Homo sapiens: one gene and its partner. The protein of the gene in region 1 purifies or fractionates together with the protein of each later gene. This does not show direct contact. Each region holds a gene or a part of one and is shown on either strand. Other genes may lie near its edges.

Region 1 (3,500 bases):
AGAGCCTTGTTCCAAAAATCCTGGGCCTGGAGCACTGCATTGCTCTAACCAATGATTTCTGCCTGCTGACCTTCAGACTCACCAACTCCTTACTGTTTTTCCCCAAATGGGAAAATGACCAATATTTTAAGACTTAGAATTTTAAAAGATCCACACAATTTAAGGGGTCAAAAGGGTTTAAAAGGAAAAATAAATAGATATTCTGAAGTCTCTCAGTGGCAAGCTCTCCTTGAATTTAACCAATCCTTTTTAACAACCCTTTTTCTACTCAATCATTCCTCCCCCTTCAACCTAATCCAAGTACACAGAGCTGCAGGAAACCACTGTAAAAGTAGAAGTAATTCAAAAGACATCATCTCCTACATGGGAGGAGAGAAAGTTTTCCTACTCGCCAGTCCCATACAGGAGATATACGAATGTATGACACAGCCGCTCCCTAAAAGAGGGCTGTGCCCTATAAATCAGATGCTAAGCACCAACCCCTTTTTGTGCACAGAGAAATTGCTGTGGGTCAGGGGCTGCTCCAGAGCACGTGCCCTCCTGTTCACTTGTCATCAGAGATGTTAACATTTCTGATTAATTCATATAGCCCTTATTTTATTCCTCATTTCTTTATCCTTGCTCTGCTGCAGGGCGAAGATTCTTACCGACCTGCTACAGTAATCACCGCCCGCTAACCGAACCCCCCCAAACCTAGTGAAATTGTTTAGTGATGCCAACTGCGCTTTTAATTTGCAAGACATCAGACACAGAGGTAATTTATACTAACATCTGTTCATTTTTGACTTCTGAAACAAACTTGCACATACTGCTACAAAATCCCATTAGGAGTAGGGAGACAGCCTTCTGCTACTATTCTGTATTCCTCGTCTACACGCGCACACACACACACACACACATACACACACACACCCACACACACCTCTTCTAGTAGGGTCTTATAAATAAATGTATTTTACTCTTAGCTTTTTAAGCTCCCATCAGGAATTTCAAATCTCTTTGGGGAAAAATCTTTAGAGATGACTACTGCCTGCTTACAGAGAAGAGAAAGCCATTTCTATTCCCCACTGCCTGGTTCTGTCCCTTCTTCTTCACAATGGTTGTAGCTTGGTATAATTCTAGGATGAATGGCCAGAGTAAGACTACATGTTCTTCAGCTTGGCACTCCCAGTTCCTCCATTTTCTCCTTTTTCTTTGTTCCCCATAATGTATTATATTATATAGAAAACAATTCTAGACACAACAAGATTGGGAGAGAGAGAGTGTTATATAGAGTCAGTGAAATCTGTCAACTATTTTCTTTTTTTTTGAAACAGAGTCTCGCTCTTGTTGCCCAGGTTGGAGTGCAATGTTGCAATCTCAGCTCACTGCAACCTCTGCCTCCCCGGTTCAAGTGATTCTCCTGCCACAGTCTCTCAAGTAGCTGGGATTACAAGCATGCACCACCACACTTGGCTAATTCTTTGTATTTTTGGTACAGACAGGTTTTCACCATGTTGGCCAGGCTGGTCTCGGACTCCTGACCTCAGTTGATCTGCCCGCCTTGGCCTCCCAAAGTGCTAGGATTATAGGCATGAGCCACCTCGCCCAGCCTGTCAACTATTTTTTTGATTCTGGATTTATTCTCTAAGATTACAAGGTTTCACAGGAAGGCAACACCGCTTCCATTCTAATAACTATGCCAAGAGGGGCCCACTGGTCATCAGCTACTGGTGTATGCCGTGCAGGAGAGAAGCATGACCCCTATGTCAAGTCATGATTTACAGGCCCTATTATGTCGTACATAGATCACAAATTGAGAAAGCCACAATTGAAACTGTCACTATAGGGTTAACATGTGAAATGCTGCAGAGTGTGGAGAGGGGACTGGCTACTACACACTGAGAGACAGCAAATGGATAGACTACAATCAACTTTCAGGTTTCCACTGTTTCTGTTATCCCCCACCACTTTCGTAGTTCCTCCAGGGCTATCCAGTTCATGGCAGCTGTAAATACCTGGGTATACTTGGAGAGGTCAGGGCTGAAAGGAGGACTCCACTGTGCCTGCTCTGAAAGTGGTGTGTGGTTTAATATAATCTCTTCTTTAGACTCTCCAATTCCTCCATCCTACATTTAGCCTTGCTTCTGGCTCACTTTCCACGATAACTATCCCCAAACTGCCTTCTCTGCAGTAAATTTTTCTGGTGGCTGGTTGAAAAAGATTCAGTGGTACAGATTGATTTCTCACTGGTGAGGGATGAGGGATTACCAGAGGCACCCTGGTTAACGAGATTGGGTGCAGAACCTCTCTCAAGACCAGCCCTCTCTGCCAGGGCTCTGCACCTTTCCCCAATGACATATGGGTTTTATTACAGAAAGATTGTCCAGATTATAACTTTGAGGCAATTGCCTGATAAAATTCTGCTCAGCTTTTATGTAGGGAACAATGTAAATTTTAAGAAACTTTTTAATGAAGTGGAAGAAACTCATAGTTCAGTTTTTCAATTCCAATGCAAACTACTTTAAATATTTCTATGCCTCAACATAATTAAAAATGTTTGTGAAGCGGGGACAAATTACTTTCCACTGGGTTTCTCATATTCAGAAGAGCAATAACAGGTTGCTTTTAGGAGATTGTAATATGAGTGGCCAGGAAACAAAGGAGACAATGTAATATTGTGAAAAGAGCAGGACTTCAGCTCTTACATTGACCCTGGGCCACATAGGCAAATTACCAAGTTATTTTTCTGAGCTCCTTTCCTCATTCATTCAAGGTAGGATTAATACAAAGTCACACAGGCATTCAATAAATGCTAGCTACTGTAAAACTATTTGTTTCATTTCAAACAGAAAGTTTACTTAAGCAATAGGATGCCTGGTGGGAAAACTATCTAAGATTCATTTCTTTTAGAGTAACTTATCCCTACTTAAAGACATATTGCCCTACATGTAACAGCTATGTACAAGAGTTTAAAAACTGGTTGGTTTTAGAATGACACGTGAAAAACACCAAAATTCTCAAATTTAACAAGGTATGGAAGGATTTTTTTTTTTTTTATAAGAGACAAGGTCTCGTTCTGTCACCCAGGCTGGAGTGCAGTGGTGCAGCCATAGCTCACTGCAGCCTCAACCTCCTGGACTCAAGTGATCCTCCTGCCTCAGCCTCCTAAGTAGTTGTGACTACAGGCATGCAATACCTGGCTAATTTTTTTCTTTTTTTTTTTTTTGTGGAGACAGGATCTTGAACTACTAGCTTCAAGCATGGAAGGATTTTTTGTTATTGATTTTTATTAAATGATGAGGCAAAATAACTTAATGAAGTATAAAGATAAGAGCTGAATGAGCATGCCACTAATGGAGAAAGGGGGCATTGCCACAGAATCAGTATTTATCCCCATCTTATCTCCATCTGATGTTGATCAAAACATATCATTGGCCATTTAGTTTAAAAATAAAAAGGTAATATGCTTGTGCACAAATGCCAGTCACTTTATGCACAGTAAAGGAATGAGAAAGGGG
Region 2 (3,500 bases), about 38 Mb from region 1:
CTGCTTGAGATCAAGGCAAAATATATTTGATAGATTATTAGAATATAAATGATATTGGGAACAAATAATGTATAGAAATGGCAAATTGTTAGCCTTTGTTGAGATTTTTAAATTAACATATTAATTTTTGCTTTGTTAAGACTTTATAAAGAACGATTAAGTCAGGTGGATGCAAAACTACAAGAAGTCATAGCTGGAAAAGCACCAGAATACTTGGAACCGCTGGCAACTTTACAGGAAAATATGCAAATTCGTACAAAGGTAGCAGGTAGGAAAGTGAAGAATCTTTTCCATATATAGAATGTAAACTCTTCAGTAGCTTTAAAAGGTGTTTATCAAGTAAGTGTTTTATGTTGATGGGATTACAAGCATATTTACATCGACCAGAATATTTTACTTTTAGTTAGCCCACAGTTACTGTATTTATTGAATACCTCTTGCTTTGCTCTGCTGCTGTAGGGGATTAAAAAAAAAAAAAGCCCTCAAGTTGTTTACAGTGTTGTTGAGAAGATAGTTCCACATTTGGTGAAACAACTGGAAACCATGATACTTTCATTAAGAGAGACTGTTACTATCACATTTTAATTCCCTATTAGATAAAGTTTAAGTGTTCTAGGCATTTTTTTAATACGTAAAAGTGATAGGATTTTTTTTAATTTATAAAAAATTTTAAAAATGTTTGATCAGGATATTATAGAACAGGAAACTTGCCTTGAACTAGATGATTTAATTTTTCCTTTTTACTTTGATAAGTTTGGTTACTCATTTGTGGCTACAAATAAACAAAGATGCACTATATTTGTATGGTTACATTTCAGTCTTATGTTTGTAAATAGGATCCAGCCTCAGTATCATGTCCTGGCACTCATAATCAAGGGATATATATATGATTTTTCATAGTCAAAAACTAAACTTTAATTAGTGGAGATGCTGGTTGTTTTTCTCTTATGTGGCACTAATTGACCCTTATGTACCTGTTAGATAATACCTAAGGCATTGTTGATAATAAGTTCTTTTTACTAAACCCTCCTTTAACCAAATTTTATTTTTGAGTGCTTAATATTATGTAGATGATATGATACTCTTCACTGCTATCTTTACATATTGACAACATACCCTTAGAAGTAAAAATATCCCTAATTTTCTTTGTTCTTTTAGATTACATGGATGATCAGGAAATATTACTTGAGTCGATTATTTACTTTTCTACTCTGGCCTCTTTTATATTTTGATTTTGCAGAGTAGTGTGTGTGAATGTGTTGCTGATGACGTAGTTCCAGATATCTGTCTCTTGCCTTTACTATACAAAGAGAGATAATTACATTTCTAGGGCCAACTATGGCATAAAGCTTAGAATACATATCCAGAGCTCTTTGCGTGCCGTTTTTGTAGTGACATATTTGCATGGCCATGTTACCTATTTTATACTATTGTCCTGTTAGGGTCTAAGTTAAACTATCTTGGGTATCCATCCTCTAGATAAAGTCCTGTCAGGAGCACTCCAGACATAATTGATTTTGTTATATCAGTTTATATACATTTACTCCTCGTGGATTCTTTGGATTGAAAATGATAGTTAAAAAAAAAGTGGTTTTGGTGGGGTATAGTATCTAGCTGTTACTCTGAGTATATGTGATTGATGACACCAGAGTTTATTATCTCCATTTCTATTTTGAGAAACTTGAGAGATTGTTTTTCACAGGAAAAGAGTTTTATTTTCATTTTGATTATTCTGTATCAAACATTTAGGAGTAATCTTTAGAAGAATAGATTAAGAACAAAAACTAGCAGTACAGTTTCTTTCTAGCTCTTATAATTTCTAATCTTTTTGGATATATATTTTAAGTGAGCCTTTTATTTTTAGTCTTTAAAGACAAAGTTAGACTCACTTTTCAATTTTTTCTTGATCCATCTTATTAAATACAGTGAGGACAGAATTCCTGTAGGGAAGTGATAATGGAACTTCTCATTGCTAACATAATCAGAGTAATTGTGTTTGGTTGCAGGAATCTATAGAGAGCTCTGCTTAGAATCTGTAAAGAACAAATATGAATGTGAAATTCAAGCTTCTCGCCAGCATTGTGAGGTACTGTCATTTTGCATAACTTTTAAGCTAATTTCATCTCTTCAAGCCTTTTCTGAGTGTAGTAGTTAAAAAAGTAAACTAAGTAAAACAATATTAAATAGTACTTTAGCTCATCATTTGTGTGTGATTAAAAAAAAAAAAGAATAGAGTTGCATTGGAAGCTGTATTGGAGATAGGACACAAAGAAAGGACCATAGAAAAAAACTGAGATAATTTTAGAAGTTTTGCAGCTGTTACTTTAAAAAGACTTTGCAACGATTATGTCACCTGGCATTACTGAAAATATTAGTATAATTAGTATAATGTGGATTAGATTTGCGAAATATACACTCAATGGTGCAGTTAGGATGTTGGGCTATAGAATTAGTTTCTGTCTGTCTAGACCTATTTCCACATCTTTGGGCAGAATTCTCTATTTATGGGAAAAAAAATAGGTATATTTTTCTGTATATTCTGTTTATTTTGCATTTAACCCATTTATGCTGAAGGTTGCAATTTTTTTGTGTGTGTGAAAAATCAGATCTTGGTGATGACCTTGAGCAGTAGGATATAAATAACTCCCACAAGCTTAACATTCCAGTAATGGAACACTAGGCATAAATGGGTTAAAATATTTATAGCATTTAAAAAACATAGTGCCCAGGCATGGTGGCTCACACCTGTAATCCCAAGAGTTTAGGAGGCTGAGGCGAGAGGATTTCTTGAGCTCAGGAAGTCAAGACCAGTCTGGGCAACATAGTGAGACCCCCCACCTCTACAAAAAATAGAAAAATTAGCTGGGCATGGTGGCAGGTGGCTGTAGTCCTAGCTACTCAGGAGGCTGAGGTGAGGGGATTGCTTGACCTTCGGAGGTTGAGGCTGCAGTGAGCTGTGATTGTGCCACTGTTCTGCAGCCTGGGTAACAGAGTGTCACCCTGTCTCAGAAATAGCAACTACAACAACAACAAACAAAAAAACCCCATAGTGCCCGTTTTGCAGATAACTTTTTATCAAATCTAGACAAGATTATAGATATACAGGTAGAAATAAGAGGACAAGTTCTATAACGATTCTTCTGTCACTTTAATGTGCCGTAAACTAAGAGTAGTTAGGTATAAAAATGATAGAGCTCATTGTTTCATTTTCATAATTACAACTGAGATTGATTATCTTTTTGGCGTTTACTAGCTGCTTGGATATTTTTTCCTAAGAAGTGCCTATTTGTATTTCTTGCCTTTGTGTTGGCTTTTAGTCTTTCCCTCATTGACTATATAAGTTCTTTATATATTCTGGCTATAAATGCTTTGCTGGTTGTATGCTTTGCAAATCTTTTTGCCCAGGTGGTACGATGTTTTCACTCTTTCTGATGACTTGCTGCAAAGAAGTTTTACATTTTAATGTAGTTGAATTTATTATCTTTTTATTTATGGGATGT

The links.
Region 2: the proteins of LIN52 (region 1) and BRMS1L purify together in Homo sapiens (affinity purification with mass spectrometry, with the first as the bait; one large-scale study listed by BioGRID). This does not show direct contact.

Annotation. Positions count from the first base shown.
Region 1 is NC_000014.9:74,192,956-74,196,455, reverse strand, and holds part of LIN52 (protein lin-52 homolog), read right to left. Parts: exon of another isoform or gene 3,179-3,500; intron 1-3,178.
Region 2 is NC_000014.9:35,832,838-35,836,337, forward strand, and holds part of BRMS1L (breast cancer metastasis-suppressor 1-like protein), read left to right. Parts: intron 1-140; coding exon 141-268; intron 269-2,006; coding exon 2,007-2,086; intron 2,087-3,500. UniProt on the Homo sapiens protein: Involved in the histone deacetylase (HDAC1)-dependent transcriptional repression activity. When overexpressed in lung cancer cell line that lacks p53/TP53 expression, inhibits cell growth.